4 linked regions of the Homo sapiens genome follow. The protein of the gene in region 3 interacts with the protein of the main gene of each other region in a biochemical or structural test. Each region holds a gene or a part of one and is shown on either strand. Other genes may lie near its edges.

Evidence for each region.
Region 1: the proteins of SYNCRIP (region 3) and SYT9 form a complex in vitro, tested with the Homo sapiens proteins (one study listed by BioGRID).
Region 2: the proteins of SYNCRIP (region 3) and SYT4 form a complex in vitro, tested with the Homo sapiens proteins (one study listed by BioGRID).
Region 4: the proteins of SYNCRIP (region 3) and SYT2 form a complex in vitro, tested with the Homo sapiens proteins (one study listed by BioGRID).

The regions. Positions count from the first base shown.
Region 1 is NC_000011.10:7,254,150-7,259,154, forward strand, and holds part of SYT9 (synaptotagmin-9), read left to right. Parts: intron 1-5,005. UniProt on the Homo sapiens protein: May be involved in Ca(2+)-dependent exocytosis of secretory vesicles through Ca(2+) and phospholipid binding to the C2 domain or may serve as Ca(2+) sensors in the process of vesicular trafficking and exocytosis.
Region 2 is NC_000018.10:43,273,940-43,279,530, forward strand, and holds the start of SYT4 (synaptotagmin-4), read right to left. Parts: upstream 3,552-5,591; 5' UTR 3,343-3,551; coding exon 3,309-3,342; intron 456-3,308; coding exon 1-455. UniProt on the Homo sapiens protein: Synaptotagmin family member which does not bind Ca(2+). Involved in neuronal dense core vesicles (DCVs) mobility through its interaction with KIF1A.
Region 3 is NC_000006.12:85,618,481-85,623,485, forward strand, and holds part of SYNCRIP (heterogeneous nuclear ribonucleoprotein Q), read right to left. Parts: intron 4,208-5,005; coding exon 4,002-4,207; intron 938-4,001; coding exon 788-937; intron 460-787; coding exon 338-459; intron 1-337. UniProt on the Homo sapiens protein: Heterogenous nuclear ribonucleoprotein (hnRNP) implicated in mRNA processing mechanisms. Component of the CRD-mediated complex that promotes MYC mRNA stability.
Region 4 is NC_000001.11:202,703,204-202,708,208, forward strand, and holds part of SYT2 (synaptotagmin-2), read right to left. Parts: intron 1-5,005. UniProt on the Homo sapiens protein: Exhibits calcium-dependent phospholipid and inositol polyphosphate binding properties. May have a regulatory role in the membrane interactions during trafficking of synaptic vesicles at the active zone of the synapse.

The DNA.
Region 1 (5,005 bases), on a different chromosome or scaffold from region 3:
CTGATTCCTTGGCGGAGGAATAGCTAGAGATAGGAGTCGACCTTGCTGCTCTGAGTTCCTGATAGCAGTGCTCTGCTTTCTTAAACTAGGACACAAGGGTTTTGAAGTAGCCCCATGCCCCTGTGGCTCTTTGGTTTTTGTTGGAAAGTAGCCAGCTCATGAGGACAGGGGTGGGGGTTTTCGAGTGCAAGGTGAGAGGAAATGAGGCCAAAGATTACATCCAAAGTGCACCCTCTCCTTCAGGACACTTCTCCCTTCATTTCCAAATCTCCCTTCATTTCCCTCCTTCCTTGCCTTGCCGACATTAATTCTTACATCAGATGCATTTGTCTTCATCCCTCTGAAGCAAGAGTGTCTTTAATCTCGGAACCCTAAAAGCTGAGTAGTAGAAAAGCTGCACCACACAACGCCGTGTGAATAATGTCCCTGCTGTTGATAGTGTGAACCAGAACAACCATGCACAGCAGCCCTGAGACATGGGTTCCTAGAGAGAGTCATCTCGGTAAATGGATGACTTCTTTTTCTGGAAAGGAATCCACCTGAATGCCATGTCCCAGCTTTCTCTGTTATTGTCCATTCACGGCCACCCTGTGATAGCTAGGTTTTCTCAAGCTGAACTAAGGACTTTGGTTATAAAAGGAGAAAAAAGATATAATTTCCTGTGGACAGCAAAGTGACCCTGCATCTAGGAAATTTACTCATTTTTTCAGAGGTGTGGAAAGACTAGGGCACAGACCAGCGGGCCTGAGCCATCAGAAAGGTTCTTTTTTGTCCAGGTAGTTATAGTGCCCTGTTGGGGGAGTACCGCACCCAGATTTCCCTGACTTGGTGTTCACAGAGGACTTGATGCAATTGTGGTTTAAAAAAATAAGCCTAAGTCACAGTTGGAACTGAAGTGCCTCACCCAGTCTGTCATCTGTACCAACTTGTGGAAAGGAAAGTGCTGAGTGTGAGCACTTTTGTCCATAGAAAGCAATTAGAATGCTCTGTTGGTTGCCTTTATGGTGTTTTATATGTTAATGATGTGGGACATAAACTTGCAGGCCTCAGAGACTAGCCTTTAAGGCAGAGGGAACAGCAAGCGCAAAGGCCCTGAAGTGGTAGCATTATTGATATGATTCTAGAAATGGTGACTTCAGAGGTGGCTGGAGAGGTGTGAAACAGATGGAGAGTGATAAGACGTGTATGGTCAAGAGTTAGAGAGGGTGGATCATGCAGAGTCTTGTAAACCATTATAAAGACTTTGGTTTTTACTCTGAATGAGATAGGAAGCCATTAGAAGGTGCTGAGCAGAGAAGTGACAACACTTTGACTGCTATGTTGAAGAGCAAAGGTGAAGTCAGAGAAACCACTTAGGAAGCTATTTCAGAAATCCAGACAGAGGTGATAGTGACTTCAACAGGGATAGTGGTAATGGAGGTGATGAGAAGTAATTGGATTATGAATGCAATTTGCAGGTACAGCCGCAAGTATTTATTGAAGGAAGAGATGTGAAAGGTGAGAGAAGGGCAATTAAGGATGCTTCAAAGGCTTTTTGACCTAAAAAATTCCATGTACAAGTAGAAGTCTTCAGGAAGAAGGTAGGGGTGAGGAGGGAAATCATGAGGTTTATTTTTTATTTTATTTTAACTTTTTGTAACACATTAAGTGTGTGATGCCTCTTTAGATAGCCAAGCTGTTTTACAGTTGAACAGTGACCTGAGGTATGACTATCCTCTTTAATGTCAATTGCTCTATGCTCGTATTTTTTAACTGGAGACTTCGCTGTCAAGAAGATTAATTGGTTATAGAACAGTATGTATTGTTAGAAGGTTTTCCTTGTAGGGAATTAAAAGGTCTCTTAAATTTCTACCCATGGATCTTGATTATACTTTTTTTGGTCAAAAAGCATTAGTCTTATCTCTCTTCTCCATCATACACCTTTGGCTATTAGGAGGTAAACTAGCCTAACTTATCTAGATCCACTCTTTCCAAGGAACAGAAAGGAGGATTGGATCATGTAATGACTAGGTCTTAAACATGTTTTTATCATTTTCTTTTTAAGTCTTTTCTTCTGTAGGGTGCCAACCATGTCTGTGCCAAGCACTTTATGTAGGTCATTTCACTAGTCCTCACAAGTCTTTTAAGCACTTATCTGTGTTCCAGCAGCAGCAGCAGCTGCTGGGAGCTTGTTAGAATTGGAGATCTCAGTTATGTCCCAGACCCACTGAATATGAATCTGTATATTAACAGGATCCTCAGGTGAGAGTTGTAGGCACATTAAAGTTCAAGAACCATGGCTAAAAGTGATTGATATATATGAGTAAACTGAAGTCCAGAGAAGTAAACTAGCCCAGGGCCATGGAGTCCATTTAAAAGAAGAATTGGGTCTAAGTGAAAGTAGCTTCTTAGGTAGTCACATCACATGTACTGAAAACTGAGGAGTTATTGTCAATGAAAATTTTCTAGGTGTTTTTCATAAGAGCCACCCTTAGACCTACTTTCTCTCTTCTGTACTTGTATGATGGATTTAATCCCTAAGTGTAGGTCACATTCTATGTAGTTGTAAAGATTCAGCTTAGTATTTTTGATTATGAATTCTGTTATCCAGGATACTGGTTTTCCATTCATGTTCCAACTCCATATTCTGGAGATTTTTCTGCATGTTCTCTGTGTCTGTACCCAATGTTTAGAAAAGGTTCAGCAGGTCAGAGTATGAAGCAGAGCCTTAAGACTCATGATTAGTGATTCTTCTCTCCATGTAAATATTACTCTATTCAAGAAAAGCTTTTTCTAGGTCATGGTTTTCAACTTTGGCTGCACATTAGGAATACTTAGGGAGCTGGAACAAACAAACAAAGAAAAAACAAACAACAGCAACAACAAAAACTACCAATGACTGGGCTGCACCCTAGACCAGTTTTAAATCACAGTCTCTGGGAAATGGGCCTGGTATCAGTATTTTTAAAGTTCATCTATTGATTCTAATGTGCAGCCAAGTAGAGAACAACCTTTGAGACCATTGGGCAAAGAATGCATCCGCCTAACCCTTCTCAGCTCAGCTCACATTTGTTTCTTGCAAAATTAGGAAAGATAGTATCAAAAACTAGGAACCTTGACTGTTACCCTGTACAGCTAGTGCCCATATCAACTGATTCTTAACTTTCTTTTCCCAACGTTATCCTACATTTTTCTTTTAAGGGCTCATTGAACATATCATAAGGCTCTATTATGTCCACCAATCTGAGAGGGGAAAAAACAAACAAATCAAGAAAAATCTTGTCTAAATAGTGTGTCATTAAAAGGTCAGAATATAGAACCTTCACAAATGTCACCCTATGTTAAATTATAATGAAGTCACTTATTAGAAAATGTACATGTAAAATAATAATTAAATATAGTTTCTATGAAAAAAATCTCCAAAATAATCATCAAGATTAAATATTAGCCTTGATTCAAATTTTTCTAAGGTAGTCAAAAGAGAATCAGTCTTGAAACACTGGATGTTTATGAATAGACCTTGGTGTGATTATGCACAATGGGATTAATTTTTTTAAATTAATGTTAATTGCAATCAGGAAAAAGAGTCTTCTAAGGAATGAGTGGCATATTGGATGCACAATATGTGAAGATCTAATTTGCATTTACTTCGGTGACATTTCAGGGCTCCTTCATAAATATTTTATTTAAACAAGTGTGTTTTCATCTCTGCGGGACTCCTCTACATGGACCAGTGAGTGGTTTAGTCATGAGGTAATTATCAAGAGGGGAAAACAAAAGCAAATTGTAGTAAAGGCATCACAGGCAGCCCTATGGCCAGCTGCCTCTTTCAAAATAAACAATCAAAAGCACAAACTTTTTGATGTGGGATAAACTCTCAAGGAAAAATTAAACTGACACCTAAAGGAAATCATCCTCAAATTTTCTATTATGTATAGAGCATAGATGTTGCTTTCACTGAAGTAGCATTGAGGCACTTTTATGTTTGTGCTGCAAGTGCAATTTCCCATATGGTTGGCTTAAAAACATTCATAATCTCTTCCTAACAGGTTGACTTGAGGGAACTAACAAGTTCACACTCCAAAGTGTATAGAGAAAGTGGAGGAGCTTAGTGAGAGGCATAAATGGGGGAGCAATCTCACTTTTAAAAGGACAAGTATGGAGTATGTATTTCTATTTTCTGAATGAAGTTTGAATAAAATCACCATTTGTGGAGAAGTTTTCAGTTTTCACTGCAATCTTGGAGCAATAAATGTGCATCACGACTTCCTTTTCTTTCAAATGTTTATTTGGTGGGCTCTAGGAAGGGCTTTAGACCACATCAAATCCTGAGGACCAGGCTTTGCAGATCTCTTTGAAATCTTCATATGGCCTTGCACATGTATTTTATCACACAAAAACTTTAAATCAACATTGATAGAACTGCACTTGAAAGAAAAAAAAATCTTCTAGGACATCAAGATGACAAAGTGGAATAAGCAAGGACTTTGGAGTTAGAATCTGACTGCACTTACTACCTTAGTGACCTTGAGTAAAATATTTAACTCTTCATTTTATTCATCTATAAAATGGGAGTGGAAGATTGCTGTAACATTGTGCCCAGAGTAAATGCTCAAATAAATGATCAATAAATTGATGTTGTTGGTAGTATCACCTGCCCATGTTTCCTTTCAGCCGTGGTCCACAAACATGTATATGTTTTACCATTTGTAATTATTTGTAGGCTAAATTTACTTTCTACTTTTTTGTAAACTTAGCATTTTATTACCTCTTATTAGCTGTGTGTTCCTGGACAAGTTATTTAACCTCTGTGTCCTCATTTTCTCATCAGTAAAATGTATTACTAGTATCTGGGTTACTAGTTACCCAGATAAAATACAGGCTGCCAGTTCAATTTGAATTTCAGATAAACGACAGGGAATATTGCATGGCACATAATTATACAAAACAATCATCTGTTGTTTATCTGAAATTGAAGTAGAACTGGGCATCCTATATTTTTATTTGTGATGCTGACAACCCTATA
Region 2 (5,591 bases), on a different chromosome or scaffold from region 3:
GTATTCTAAGGAGAAGAAGAGAGTTCCCAGCTTCTCTTGTTTCTCTTCTGAAGTAAGGGAAGTGCTGGACTTTAAACTCTCAGGGGAAACTGACTCTTTTTCCCCTTCTAAAAAGAGCTTCGGGGTTGCATTCTCCAGATCAGAAGGACTGCCAGGTTTGAGGTTGGTTTTGGGAAAATTGCCATTGAGATCTCTCTTTTCAAGATCCAGATGCAATGAATTCTTTGGCACAGCTGGCTTATTCTTTACTTCATTTTTATCATCTGCTCCAAACTTCTTTTTGCTATTTAGGTTTTCAGGGTAAATATCAACTCCCTTAAGCACATGCACAAACTTGTATGGAGGAGTCTTGTTAGACTTGGATGATTTTCTCTGACAGCAGATCCATGCAAAGAGAGAGACTGTGAAGACCAGGCCAAATGCACTGAAGATCCCCACCACTGTGGGGATTTCATCTGAAAAATCAAATGACCAATAATATACATTAAAGAAGCAGAGCTGGAGATATGAGCCTTTTGAAAAGCCTAATAGAGCTAGCAATTGCTATAGGTTGGATAGATTGAATTACTTTCCAACTGTTCTGGGTATGAGTTAAGTGTATATTTCACACTAACTTCGGGTACAAATACATCCCCACAGGAAAAACATAAAGTGTGCTAGAAATTCCTTCATTTCAGTGGTTTTTCATTAATGAAATAAAAAGATGAAAATGGTCCTGAATCAGATATGGGGGAATGCTTAATGACTCTGACCTATCTTTGTTTTCTCAGATAACATGAGACAGCTACAATATGATGGATCAGTACTAACTTCATTATTTTTTATTGTCATTTTGAGGCTTTCCAGAGCATCACTTTTTACTGGAATTCTAAGTAGTTCTTTACTCAGAATTCAAGCAGCAAACATTTAGGGACTCAGTGGTTCACTCAATTGTAGGAAATTGATTGTGAAATGATATTTGCCATTGCCACAAACTCATTAATAATTTTCATCCCAATTATGGAACAGTGGTAAAAGAAATATACATATATTAGAGAAAGTAAAACAAAAACAGAAGAGCAACAAGGTACCGATATTTTGTAACTTATAACACTATCATCCCTTTGTATGACAATCCCAAATTTCTCAGTCAAACACTGAATTATACAAAGTATAAATTAATTAAACTTAAATAAGATAAAAACAGAACAATGGTTATAAGTGAATCAGCATTCTTTAACATGTAATGAGAACAGTGAGATTTAGAGTTCAATTTTATCTATAACTGTCTCTTCCTCTAGCACATGGCATGGCAAATGATAATCAAACTGAAATTGTCATTATTTTCTTGAATGATGGCACATTAAATTACTGACATTAGGTAATATCAATTATGCATAAGGCTTATCCTATTTTATATGTAAGCATCTTTCTTGAACAAATGGTTAGTAACACTATGGAAGTAAAAGCAGTATTACTACATCTATACATAGTGAATCCATAGAGTCAATGCTTAATATCATCAAAGTGAAAATAACTAATGTAATATTATATACATTTAGTTCCATTGCAATATGCTTTTATCCTGAATAGTAAATAATAAAGTTATAAGTTCCAGCCCAGAAAGGGTTAAAACTTTTCTAAATAACCACAAGAAATCCAGTCTTTTGTTACTTCCCTTCCCCATCCCCCCAAATCTTCTGCCAATCTACTTCACAATTATAAAACTGAACTCAGAGAATGTAAGGTTAAGAAAAGACAAATGAAATAGAAGATAAAAAGGCCAATAAAATCGCAATAAAAATCCTGTATTTTAATGTACAGAAACTGAATCATGTAAAGATGAAATAAACCTTTGACTTCTCCAGGTGGAAAAAAGAAACAGTGACTACTACAGTATAAAGCAAGAGCTAAAGATAATCAGCTAAACTTGGTATCAGCTTTTCAGTTTTTCCTTCTATTCAAGTCTTTGTGAAAAAAAAATGCACCCACATTCCTGGACCATAATAACCCAAGGCCAGGGAGCAAAAGCAAAGTCATGAACTGAGAGAGTTCTTTAGCCAATGTAAAAACAATAAAAACAGTAGAAAATCATTTTTTAAAAGTAGACTGATAGTCCATGCTAGAACATATTTTCACTGGCACAGTCTCTAAAAATTCCTCCATATTAGAAAATCATTCAGGTTTCAAATGAAGAATTGGGAATAAATGTCATACCAAAATAAACCCAATAACCCAAATGGAAGGCTGGGAAAGAAATTCATTTATGAACATAATATCACAAATTGTCCCTATTGAATAGTTATGTCAAATGGCAAACATTTTCTATAACGTGGAAACACTTATCTACTCCCTATGTATTCTCTACTGATAAGGTCTTACAATCTTGAAAGTCAAGATCATAGTTATTTTACTCAGCTTAATAACAATTATCACACATCTGTAGATATCACTCCTCTTCACAACCTTCTATGAAATTTCATGATTTAAAAAATACGTGTAAGTAAAATTCTGACCTTTTTCCTTTGGAATATACTGAGATCTAAAAATAGTACTTTTTTACTCTATGAAGTACGTCTAATTTTATGTACTGAAACCAAAAACTTGGTGTGAGAAAAGGAAAACTGAACGGGAAAATTGGAGCCCTAATTCAAGTTTCCAGCAGCTTTTAGCTAATTGTGCAACCTATAATACTTCCCTCATCTCTCTGGGCTTTGGTTAGCTCAGCAGTGAAATGAAATGGGCTGAGCCAGTTCATTTTGAAACTCTCTTTAACCCTGCTACCATATGATTCTGTCTTTCACTAGCAACATATTTCAAGGATACAAGAAAAACATAGCAGAGAAAAACACCCATATGGTACGCCCTGTAATAAAATATACATTGCCAAACCCCAATAGACAAGTTGCTTTTTTTAACCAAGATCAAACCCCAATGTAACCAGAGATATATTTATCTTCTCCTAATAAAATATAGATTTACCTACAAATAAGAATCACCTACAAAATAGATGAAACCAACATGGGAAAAACAGACCCCTTTTTCTTTACTCAGTACATGCTGCAATTTACAGAAGTACCTGAAAATTTAAGAACTTCCTGAAGGTAAATTCTCCCTAACAGAAGACAGTTTCAGGGAGAGAGATACCAAGGAAGGGAGAGAAGCTGCAGAAATAAGCCACAATTGCCTGACTGCCATTCTCATTTTCCTTTTAAATTAACTACCTAGGAAATCTGTATTCAACAACCGGGCAAAAAATAAATGAATAAACAGTCCACCCCAGAGTATTCAAGGAATAACCGCAGTCATAAGTTCAGTAACTTGCTTACCAAATTCTTCCCGGCTGGTGGTGATCGGAGCCATTTTTTACTGCGTGTTCTGTCCGAGGTGCTGAAGGGAAAACTGCCTGGCTGGATTCACTTGCCTGGATCTCAAGCGCCGGCTTTCGGAGCGCTGAAAACAACAGCGCAGAGCCCAGGGCACCAGCTCCTGGAACAGGGAGGAGGCAAAGAGGGAGGTCCACTCGCCCTCGCACAGTGATTTGCCACCTCGGTTCCTGTTTTGGCTCTTCTGAGAAGCTCGTCTCCGAGACTCCAGACGTGGCTGGAACCCGAATTGACGCAATCCTGACGCTACAGGGCTGAAATCAGCACCTGCCCCCCTCCCCTCCTCCCTTCAAGCTTTCCTTCTTGCTTCCTCCCTCCTCTCTTGAGGATTCAACACATGCTCATCAATTATTTTAACTGTTGGACCACTAGAGATTAGCTTTGCTGTTTTGTGGGGGCTCAGAGGCTCACCGAGATAAGCCCCGAAACTGATCCCTGTCAGTTCCTAATATAAAATCTCCTGATCACCTAGATGAATAAAAATATGTTTCTGAGTTTTCAGAATAACGTAACTTACAGAGGAGAAGTTTCTGCTTCAAATTACTCTTTTTAACATGCAAAAACATGTTTTCTTGCTTTTTAATTTTTTTCTTTGACATGTTATACCTATGATACTTATTACATTTAGAAAAGATTCACTACAAATTGATGCATTTGATATAAGATAGTTTTCCCAGTATAATCCTTTATGTTCTAATAAATTATTAGTCTAAATATTTTGCTGGAACAGTTGATCTTTCCTGGTCTCTCAGCTCTCTTCCCTTTAATATCTGACATTTGACCAGTTAAAGCACTTAGGAACAGATGGGGATAATTCCTTGGATATTCAGAGTCACTCTCAGTTATGACTTTTGCAAATAATAAGGCGCTTCTGAAATGACATTTATGGTTAAAAGGCCTGACTTCTAGTACGTTTGTACAAAATAGTTTCCAAAATCAGGCCAACATCTAAAGTAACATTGGTAACATTGGTTATTTCAAAGGAAAGCATTCCTTTTTCTAAACTGATGATATTCTCGGAGGTGAAAAACTGTGAAAAATATGGTGTCGGATTCTGATTCATTGGAATCTGAAGAGTGTGCCTTTCTAAAACAAATGCTTAGCAATTTTTCAAAGGAAAGAAGTCAAGCTGTAACTCCAACTGTCAATTATTGCTCTGCAAAGAATTTCTTTGCTCTGGAGTTAATAAGGAAATGGCATTCAGTGTGTGCTGGGATGTGGGAGAAGGGATACAGGGTGAGTCTCAGAAAGCTACTGTGCAAGTGACAGGTCCCTGCACATTGGCTAGCAGCAGCCCAGAGCATCAGGGCTCTGTCTGGGGAGAAATTGGCTTCAGTTCTTTGCATCATGGAAAATTTTATAAACCAGTCTTTTTTCTTTGCTATTCTATTTGCTCCCACATACTTGGCATTGGAGTGTTCCTCTAACAGATTTTTTTAAACTTTATATCTTCATGCTTTGAAAACACACAAACTAATTTGCTGTATTTAATTTTTCTGCTGGCAGAGTCTGTGGTTGTGTCTTTATCATTTCACTTTATTCAGATTACCTATTTCCTTAATTATGCATGCATGCACCCTGTAGGGTTGTCCCTAGAAACAAATATCCATTAGGTTAAAGAATAAGTGGCATTTATTTGTGATGCATATCATAGGTGGACCAAATACATGGTGTGATGTTTACTAAAGTATATATTTTCTAGCTAAGTTATTGCTAACATATGTTTAAGCTCATTTGTTGTAAACATAAATACCTTATGTGTTTGTTCTATAAATTAGTATCTCATTAATTTTACCTTCAGATGGTATAATGTTGTTATCTGTAAACTGTACAGATTGTTTAAACTCTATTTCTACGGAACCCACCCCATCCTTTGCTGTCTGACATCTGAGGAAACATCGTGATAAGATTACCTCTTGCCCAGAGCTAATGCTATTGTGGACTAAGTAACTATTTCATTGCTTGCTTTATAAGCAAACTGAAAAGAACTGTTATTAATTAAAATGCCTGAAGTTTCCCTCATTTTCATTTGATGAATAACATTTTAGGTATTATTCAATCTCTTTAGACAAGCTTCTAGCAACACCAGATGAGGAGTGGGCAGTAGACAGACCCCACACAGAGAAAAACCTGTACGTTTTTATGATTGAGATTCACACCCTACCACATTACTGAATTATTCTTTTTAGATCCATCAAACAAGTAACCAATTTACTGACGTGCAAA
Region 3 (5,005 bases):
CAGTGAGCCGAAAGAGTGCCACTGCACTCCAGCCTGAGTGACAAAGTGAGACTCTGTCACCCAATACAAAACAAAAAAAAAGCTAGACAGATTTTTCATCTTGCCAATTTACCAAAATTCCAGTTATTTACAATTCTGATTATTTTCACAAATATGGTTCATAGTAAGAGTTCAATAAACACTTAGATCACTGGTGTTTCCCTATGACTCTCAAACGTTCAAGTCTTCTTTAAAGAGATGTTATGCATTTAACAAGTCTGATCAACACCTGTTATTTTCCAATTAGTGTATAAATATTAAAATTTATACAATTTTTAAGTATACAAATTTCACTCACATTTGATTTTTTGCTGCTTGCCTCTGAGCTTTTCTTTCTTTCCTTTTCTGATCTGGTGGCTTGGCAAAAACAATTTCAATATTTTCTCCCTCCAAGTCTTTGCCATTCATTTCTTCCATAGCCTTAAAAAATTAGATAAGTCAATATAAAAATAGGACTTTCATACAATTATGATTCATTTAAAGTTGGAATATCATTTATCATTAATGTGGGAAGGACAAGAGAAAGCCCCATGCAGGCAGTCAAATAATTTTATTTAAAGATGCAGATATTCAATTATTTTTCATTTTTACTTAGAAAACTGCCAACATCACTAAAACCAAAAGGTTTTAGTTTGAATGGATTCCATGGACTTCCAAAGTCTCCTCCAATTTGTAAAACTATTTTGAGATTCTAAAATGACTAAATTTGTTAGTCTGATTTAGATGCCTGTAATTCCACCATATTTACCTTGACAGCACCATCTCGCTCATCAAAATGAATGAACGCATAATCTTTTAACTTCTTCACTCGTTCCAGTTTCCCAAACTGACTAAATGCCTTTTCTAAAATCTCTTCTGTTACAGTATTGGCAAGGTTGCGTACAAACAGCACTTTTACCTAGGGGGAAGAAAATACCCCCCTGTATTATTTCCAAAGAGTTCCATTTCTAAGATACCACCACCCCACCCTACAAAGTTAACTCAAATCACAATCCATTAGAAGAATGTCAGAATATAAAAAAAAAAAAAGTTTTCAACTCCTTGGGTAAATATCAAGCAGCAGAACTGCTGGATCATGTTGAAAGACCTGAAATAGATGCTTTGCCAAAAAAGATATACAGATGGCAAAGAATCTCATGAAGATGCTCAATATAATCTGTCATTCGGAAACCGCAAGTCAAAACTATTAGAATGGCCAAAATCCAACACACTATAAATGCAGGTAAGAATGCAGAGCAATAGAAACTCTCATTCATTGCTGGTGGGAATGCAAAAGGGTATAGCCCCTTTGAAAGACAGTTTGGCGATTTCTTACAAAACTAAACACACACTTCCATATGACCCAGCAATCCTGCTCCTTATTTACCCAGAGTTGAAAACTTACATGCACACAAAAACTTAGAGAGAGATGTTAATAGCAGCTTTATTTGTAACTGCCAAAAATTTGCCAGACGCAGTGGCTCACACCCGTAATCCCAGCAATTTGGGAGGCTGAGGCGGGCAGATCACCTGAGGTCAGGAGCTCGAGACCAGCCTGGCCAACACAGTAACACCCCGTCTCTACAAAAATACAAAGATTAGCCGGGTGCGATGGTACGCAACTATGGTTCCAGCTACTCGGGAGGCTGAAGCATGAGAAATGGTTGAACCCAAGAGGCAGAGGTTGCAGTAAGCCGAGATCGTGCCACTGCACTCCATCCTGGGTAACACAGCGAGACTCTGTCTCAAAAGAAAAACAAAAAAATTTCCAAAAATTGGAAGAAACCAAGATGTTCTTCAATGGGAGAATGGACAATTGTGGCACATACAGAAGGAATATTATAACTGATAGAAACTAGTTAAAAGCCACAAAATGACATAGAAGAACTTTAAATATGTATTACTAAGAGAAAGAAGCCAATGTGAAGGTTACATAATGTATGGTTCCAACTATGTAACATTCTGAGAAGGCAAAACTATGGAGACAGTGACTGCCAGTGGTTGAATGGGGAGGGATGACTAAGCACAGGACAGAGGATTTTTAGGGCAGTGAAACTATTCTGTATAATACTATGATGGAAACACGGTTATACATTTCTCCAAACCCACAGAACATACATCTAGAGTGAGACCTCATGTAAACTATGGACTTTAGGTAATCAATCTACGTCCATCAATTTTAACAAATGTACTATTCCAGTGCAGGATACTGGTAGTGAGGAAGGCTGTGCCTGTGTAGGGGGCAGAAGTCATATGGCAATTCTGTGCTTTCTGCTGTAAACCTAAAACTGCTCTAATGAAGTCTATGAAAAAGAAAATGCAGACTACAGGCTACATCAGTAATAATTACCAATTAGTAATTATTTTGCAATAAAAAAGATAATTTTTCCTAACAAAGTAAATACCATGCCCTCTAAGAGAGTTATTGAATGTTTAACACTTAACAAGAGTGGCCAAAACTAATTAGGACCTGCTTTTGAAATCTTAAAGGGGGAAGGACTGTTCAAAATATTAGTAAGACAAACTGTTCTCAATCCTGAAAGCTTCTCAAAGTAAAATTACAAAATTTAACCTCTTCACTAACATTATCACTTCCTCCTAAAATAACTTGAATACCATCTGAATGTGTTAATCTAAAGTGCTAACCCAATGAGAATTTATAGGCCAGAGGAAAAATGAATCCTAACTATTTTCTCTTCTCTAAGACCACTTATCCTTCAATAATATTCATAGCTCCCTGGCAGTTCATATTACCCTCAATTTAACTCAACTAGTGGTGTCTGACACCTAACCTGTAAGTAACAAAGAGGGAATTCTTAAAAGACAAAGGATAACTGGGGCATGGTGGCTCATGCCTGTAATCCCAGCATTTTGGGAAGCAGGATTGCTTAAGGCTAAGAATTGTAAGACCGGCCTGGGCAGCACAGGGAGATTAACTCTGCCTCTACAAAATTTTTTAAAAAAATTAGCCAGGTGTGGTAGTACACACCTGTAGTTCTAGCTACTTGGGAGGCTGAGGTGAGAAGATCTCTTGAGCTTGGGGCTACAGTCAGCTATGATCATGCCCCTGAACTCTAGCCCTGGGCCACAGATCTAGACCCTGTCACTTAAAAAAAAAAAAAAAAAAAGAGAACAAAGGATAGAACAAATAACTGCAAATTACTGCACCAGTGTGTAATAAAGTGTTGACTCAAGGGATGTTTATTCTTATACAATGTCTCCACTGACTGCTGAAGTCAGGATACCTAATAATGGCTAAATGTAACTGCAAGCACCTCTGCTGCGGCCAGTATAATTTACTGTTTTTAGTAGTAAGACTTTTAACCCCAAAACCATGTAAACTAATGGTGCCATTCTCAAAAACTCAAATTGCTCTTAAAAAACACACAAAATGGAAGTCAACTGTCTACAGCATGTAGGCGACTTCATTACAAGATTGTGATGGCTATACAATTATGGCTAAGTATCCACGCATCAATTTCTATTTTCACTTTGCAGGCACATGGTATTTCCAGTGCGCACTGCCTAGTCCCGTAGTAAAGAACATTTCTCCCAACTCTAAAAATATGGTTTAAAAAAAAATGTGTCCAGGGCCAGGTGCAATAGCCTCACGCCTCTAAATCCCAGCACTTTGGAAGGCCGAGGTAGGTGGATCCCGAGGTCAGGAGTTCGAGACCAGTCTGACCAACATGGTGAAACCCCAGCTCTACTAAAAAAAACACAAAAATTAGCCAGGTGTGGTGGTGGGAGCCTGTAATTCCAGCTACTTGGGAGGCAGGAGAATCACTTGAACCCGGGAGGCGGAGGTTGCAGTGAACCAAGATGGCACCATGGCACTCCAGCCTGGGAAACATGGGAAACAAGAGACTCTTGTCTCAAAAAATAAAAAAATGTATACTGTTCATTTTATGTTCCCCCCACCCCAACCCCGGCCCTTCTCCCATTAATCCCTCAAAAAATATTTTTAACTTGACTATCATTACCTTTGCCATAACCTCAGGATCAGGATCTTCTATAGGATCAGCCCATTCAACAGTTCCAACATTCCCCCAGACCTTGACTTTACCACTCATTAACCTACGCCTTGCCTGGGCAGCTGTTTTGTGATCTTCATATTCAAGAAAGCAAAAGCCTCTGTTTTTTTTCTTGTCATCCGGTTGGTGGTATAAAATGACGTCTGTAAGACCCTCTGCAAGTAAGCAACCATTCCAGGAAAATTAGATGAAATAACTAGCAAATACAAGTGGATCAAAGGATTTATCTAAGATACTACTTAAATATCAAAATGAAAAATCATCTCTTTCCTTCACTAGACATCTTTATAAAAGACTATCAAAAACTAGGTCCGGATTATTTTCCTAATCTGTTTCCAAGTTTTTCAACACAGAAATCTCCAGAAAAGAACATGTGCTCTTTTTAGAGGTAAGGACTACTTTTGTTTTCACTAATTAGATCAGAGAGGCAGATAAAAATTTTCATATAATTGTTCTAAGAAAATGGCAGTATAGATCAAATATGGCTATTTTTCTTATTATGCAAACACTAAAATTATTTTTAATGGCACTTTTCTGGCCTTAGATATCAATGGCTTTATTTCAAATAAAATAGAAGTTATAAGTACTGCATAAAAATTTCCAATGTCCTGAAAGTTGATAACAGGCTGATAATTTGTTAGACACTGTTGGCAGACCAAAATATTTTCTAAAAGCAACCTGTCACTTAAAAGTTGTTACAGTTCAAAAAATTTTTTTACCATGTTGACAATATATAAACTCTGTTTATGGGCCAGGCACGGTGGCTCATACCTGTAATCGCAACACTCTGGGAGGCCGAGGCAAGCAGATCACTTGAGGTCAGGAGTACAAGACCAGCCTGGCCAATATGGTGAAACCCCACCTCTACAAAAGACGCAAAAATTAGCCAGGTGTGGTGGTGCGCGCCTGTAATCCCAGCTACTCAGGAGGCTGAGGCAAGAGAATCCCTTGAA
Region 4 (5,005 bases), on a different chromosome or scaffold from region 3:
TCTGGTCTGGAAAGGAAAAAATGAGCACCACCTCTTTGACGCTACCACCCTCCCACCCCCGGCCACCGCTCCCCTCCCTCCGCCGCCCATACACATGGCCCTACCCAGCTCAGCCCTGCAATACCACAAATGCCTCATTTGACTTCAGAGGAAAATGGAGCTAAGAGTAGGAGTGAGGAAGGGAGTAAAAAGAAGGGCGGGGGAAGGAACAAGTGGGGAGGGAGAGATGAAGGTACAAGGTACCCTCTCCTGTCTCTCACATGCACACTACTGCAGGTGGTTACAACTCTTTTCTGTTTCTCCACAGCTGAGCAGGAAACTGGGAGAAGAGCCCTTCTCCCCTGCAGCCTCTCCCTCTTGGCCTCCATCACCACTCTCCTAACCCCTGCCAAGCCCTGCATCTGATCCTACCTGAGCTAAAGAAGCAGAAGGTCCGGAGGGAGCCTGTGATTTTTGCCTCGGTCACCTCTTACAAATGCGGTGGGCTGCTGGGCTCGCCCTAACCCTGCATCACCCCCAGGCTGCTCCTTCAGTCTACTCGGGTATGGAAAGGGTTAAGCTCCTCCCATCCCCTCCTTCCTTCATCCCATTTCTCCATTCACTTCTATTTTCCCATATGCCTAGTGCCAAGCTCACAGTTACAACCACTTACACCCTGTATTAAGATGCATGGAATAGTAATGGGTAAATTCCGTCTCTAATTGCAATATTTCCTAATTACTAAATTCCAGAGCCACTGTATCAACCCAATTATGGCAAGTCCTGCCAGAGTTCTCCATGGTCTGAGGACTCCCTGCCTTACTGAGAGGCACCTGACAAATGCCTCGGGGGAGCTTTCCTGACTCCCCACCCAGCTGCTGTCCTCCCCTGGTCCCAGACTGTCCAGTGATGAGGCCCTTGGGCTTCTAGTTTCTCTGCAGGGGATGGGAGGAAGTGAAGCAAGCTTTGTGATTGAGGAAAGCCTTGTGTTGACAGGCGACTATCCTGGGGTTGGAGAGCATCTGGGAGCCCTGTCACTCTGCACCAGCCACCATCAATGCTCCCAGCTTCAGAACTCCACTTTGGGGGCTAGGGGGACCCAGGAGAGGAGGAGAAACAACATGCCCTGGCCTTGGGGAGCGCCCAGGCTGATAGAGGAGACACGGTTATTTTGAGTTCTCCTTTACATCCCAGGTGCCTTTTACAGAGTAGGTGCTTAGTGCATTGGAGTGGAACGTGGAGGAAAAGGCGGGAGGAAAGTAGGAAGTAAGGAAGGAATGGGGTGCTCTGGCTCAGGCTGAGTTTAGACTCTGGCTACACCTGCACGCAAGGGTTGACTTTTGGGCTGTGAGTCCCATAGGGATCTGACTTCTCAGGTCTGGAGTCTCCGAAGGAGAGAAGCAGTCACACACCCACTAACTCCCATTCTCCCTGCCTTTGCAAGGGGCCCTCCTCCCCAGCCCACCCCTAGGACCCTGAATACACACATATGCACACACACACGGCTGCTGGGCTTCAGAGGAGCCGTTTAATTGCCGAGTTGAAACCTGCAAGGGCTTTTGGTGCTGATGACATCAGCATGCCATCACAGATAGGGCTGCTGAGGCTGGAGCAGCTCTGGATTCAGCGGGGTGTCCCATCATGCACTCAAGACTGCCCACCCTGGGGCCTCCCTCCTTGCTTCAGAGCAGGTGTTCCTGAAGGAGGTGCCAGAGCCCTTATGGAGAGCCCAAGGAAACCCAACATCAGGGAGGGAGAGCTGATTCAATTCCTCCAAGGAATCACTGCCTAATTTTTGTAAAGGCTGCTGCCTGATTTAAATCACCCAGCCTCCTGCTTCTACTCAACGCGTTAGTGGCCTCATCCCAAGGACCCGCACCTGTATTCTCGGGCTCCATTTGCCATAGGTAGAGCTGGTGAGAAGCGGCGAGGAGAGGAGGAAGGGTTCTGACCACTCAGCTGCTGTGGCCTGGAAGGCCCCCTGCAAAGTGCCTATGATCTGGGGATTTTGAACAACCACACAACTTCTCTGGGGATTTTGAACCACACAACTTCTCTGGGCCTTTGCCCGTTCATTGTAAAGTGGGGACAGCGATGGCGTAGCCGAGGACTGCAGTGATGAGAGCTTGACCGCCCTTGTGAGCCGCTCTATCCCCGAGCAGGGGAGCAGGAGGCGCAGGGAGGAGCCCTGAGGTTCCCTGTTGTGCGGGACCCACACTGACTTTGCCCTTTCTTATGCCTGATGCTTAGTGTTACTGACAGCAAAAGCTGAAATCCTGAGGTCCCCGGCTAAAGTGACCAAGGAAGGGCCTCTCCTGACTTTACAGCAGCAGGTAACCCCCCTTTCTTTCAGATTTGGAGGCTGCTTGGCCATTTTAATGGACCCTGCTACTCACATCCTACTTCCCTAAGTGTGAGGGGCTTTCAGAATCTAACCTCCTCCCTGGCACTCAGCCAGCAGGGACTTTATCCTCATCAGAAAATGATCCAGGGAGGAAGCTTCTACAATATCTACTGCTCATCTTGGATTTTGGGAGTCCTTTTTTTTTTTTTGAGACCGGATCTCACTGTTTTCCAGGCTGAAGTGAAGTGGCATGACCATAGCTCACTGCAGTCTCGACCTCCTGGGCTCAGGCGATCCTCCTGCTTAACCTGGTGTGCCACCATGCCCAGCTAATTTTTAAATTTTTTGTAGAGACAGGGTCTCCATATGTTGCCCAGCCTGCTCTGGAATTCCTGGGCTCAAGCGATCCTTCTACCTCAGCCTCCCAAAGCGCTGGGATTACAGGTGTGAGCCACTGCACCTGGCCTGGGGAGTCCTTCTGGATGTTTAATTTTAGACCCAGCCTCTCTAGGGGAGGGGGCTGGCAGCTAGGTGTTCCCCTGCCCTCCAGGCTCACAGTGACTCTCAGGTCCCTCTGGGCCTGGATCCAAATTTACCCATCACTCTGGCTACTTCCTTGAACTGTCAGTTCCAGAGATGAAAATGAAGGATTGCTGGGACAAATCCTTCCCAGAAATCAAGCTTTGGCAAGAAAAGACTCATTAGGCATAAAAACCGTCTTCGAGTGAGGGGGATGAAATGCAGGACTGACCACCAAGACGGTGAGGGCAACTCCTTCCCTTGAGTTTTAAGAATATCAAAGGTGGACAGTGCTCCCTGCAGCTGGAGAACCCAAGACAGTGTTGTGTGTGTGGGCAGGAAAAGGAGCACGCAGGCCACCCAAGGATGAAAAGCACTTACTCCTCCCGCGCCAGGCACTGTTCTACACGCTTTACAGGAATTAACCCATTTCATCCTCACCAAGAACAATCTACGTCATAGTTACAAATTTTAGCTCCATTCTACAGATGGCAAGACTAAAAAACAGAGTGTGATTGACTCGCCCAAAATCACAGCAAGTGGCAGAACCAGGATGAACCCTGGCAATCTGGCTGTAGTCACTATACTGCCACTTAGAAAAAAATCTCTGACTTGATGTTTCTCCAATGAAACTATATTATTTATCACAGGCTTCTGGAGTCCAGGAGAAGCCATAACTGAATCCCAGCTTCTCTGGCCTGGCTTCTCTGACTGAGTGGAAGATGAAGAATCAACTTGTTGCCTATGGATGGATTATTCACGTAGGGAATTTAGAACTGCATCTGTCTGGTGGTCCAGGGGCTACTTCTAAAATAACACGAATAGTTATCAGTTCTACAATACTACCCTGAGAGTTAAGCATTATTACCTCTGTTCTTTAGAGAAAACTGTGCAGACATTGTCAGATCATCCTGTTACATGCTCTCGAAGCTTCCTACATACCTTCATAACTCTTGGCACAGTCATGATGAATTCTTTATGTAATTATCTAATTGTGTGGTATTCACTAGATTGTAAATGCCACGAGGGCAGGAAACAGGTCTGTTTTGTTCCCACCTGAATCTCCATTGCCTAGCACAGATTCTCAAAATGCAATAGTGGAACGAATGCAGAAGGGATGCTGAGTGGCTCAGTAACATGTGTAGGGCCTGCGGCTGTGCTCACCTCCCCACCCAGAGAGACTACAATAGTGGCACATGGTAGGTACTCACTAATAAAATACTTGTTGCAAATGTCAGACTTTGTACTTAGCAGCCCTGGGATTTGAACCCAGGCCTGTCTATCTCCTAGCCTCCATTCTTTGGTGCTTCATATTTAACCACTGCACTGAGTGACCCTGCCCCCCCATTACTCCCTCTGACTTGCTGTTCCAGTTCTTAAAGAGTATCCCCACCACCCTGGACCTTCAGTGGTGGGGATACTCTGGCTTCAGCTAGGACCTGCCTAGACTGGGGAAGTCCACAGAGCAAATCCCAAAGCCAAGTGAAGTAGTGTTTCTACTCATCTGCAGCCTTAAGTCCTCCACGAGGATGCTTCTGTCCAGGGAAGGGAATGATGGTCATTCTTCCAGGCAAATGAAGCCCAACCTCCTCCCACTCTGTCCTCACTGCCTTCTGTCCCCCTGCTTCCAGTGCACTCACTGCCCCTCTATCTACTCTCCCCTGAGAGGGCGGCACAGGCCTGGCGGGGAAGAAAAAGGAGACCCCATTGAGATATGATAATGTTCAGATGGAGGCAGAAAGAATGACTAGAGGTCAGGCTTGCCTAGGGGCTGGGGAACACTGGGGTAGCCTGGTCCCCAGGGCTTGAGAAGGGCAAGGAAGAGGCTTCTCCAGCCACCTCCAAAGCCCACCCCCAGGTCTCTGCAGTATCATAGACAGCCCTGTCACACCTGCCTGGAAGCTGCCTAAGGGTAGAAGGAATAAAACGAGCTCCAGCTGCAATGTGAGGGCAGGTGAGCCCAGACCCAGCTCCAGAAAGGGTCTCCTCGGCCCTGCGAGGTCTTCAGCAAGGTACATGCTTTGCCCAGGTGAAACCAGCTTCAGTCCTAAATTGAAGCCAGTTGCAAGCTTCTCTAGGTGAAAAGTCAATGTTTACGAACACCAACACTTTTTGCTTCCCCTGGTCCTGTTCTGCGGATGTCAGACCCCAAAGCTGAAAAAG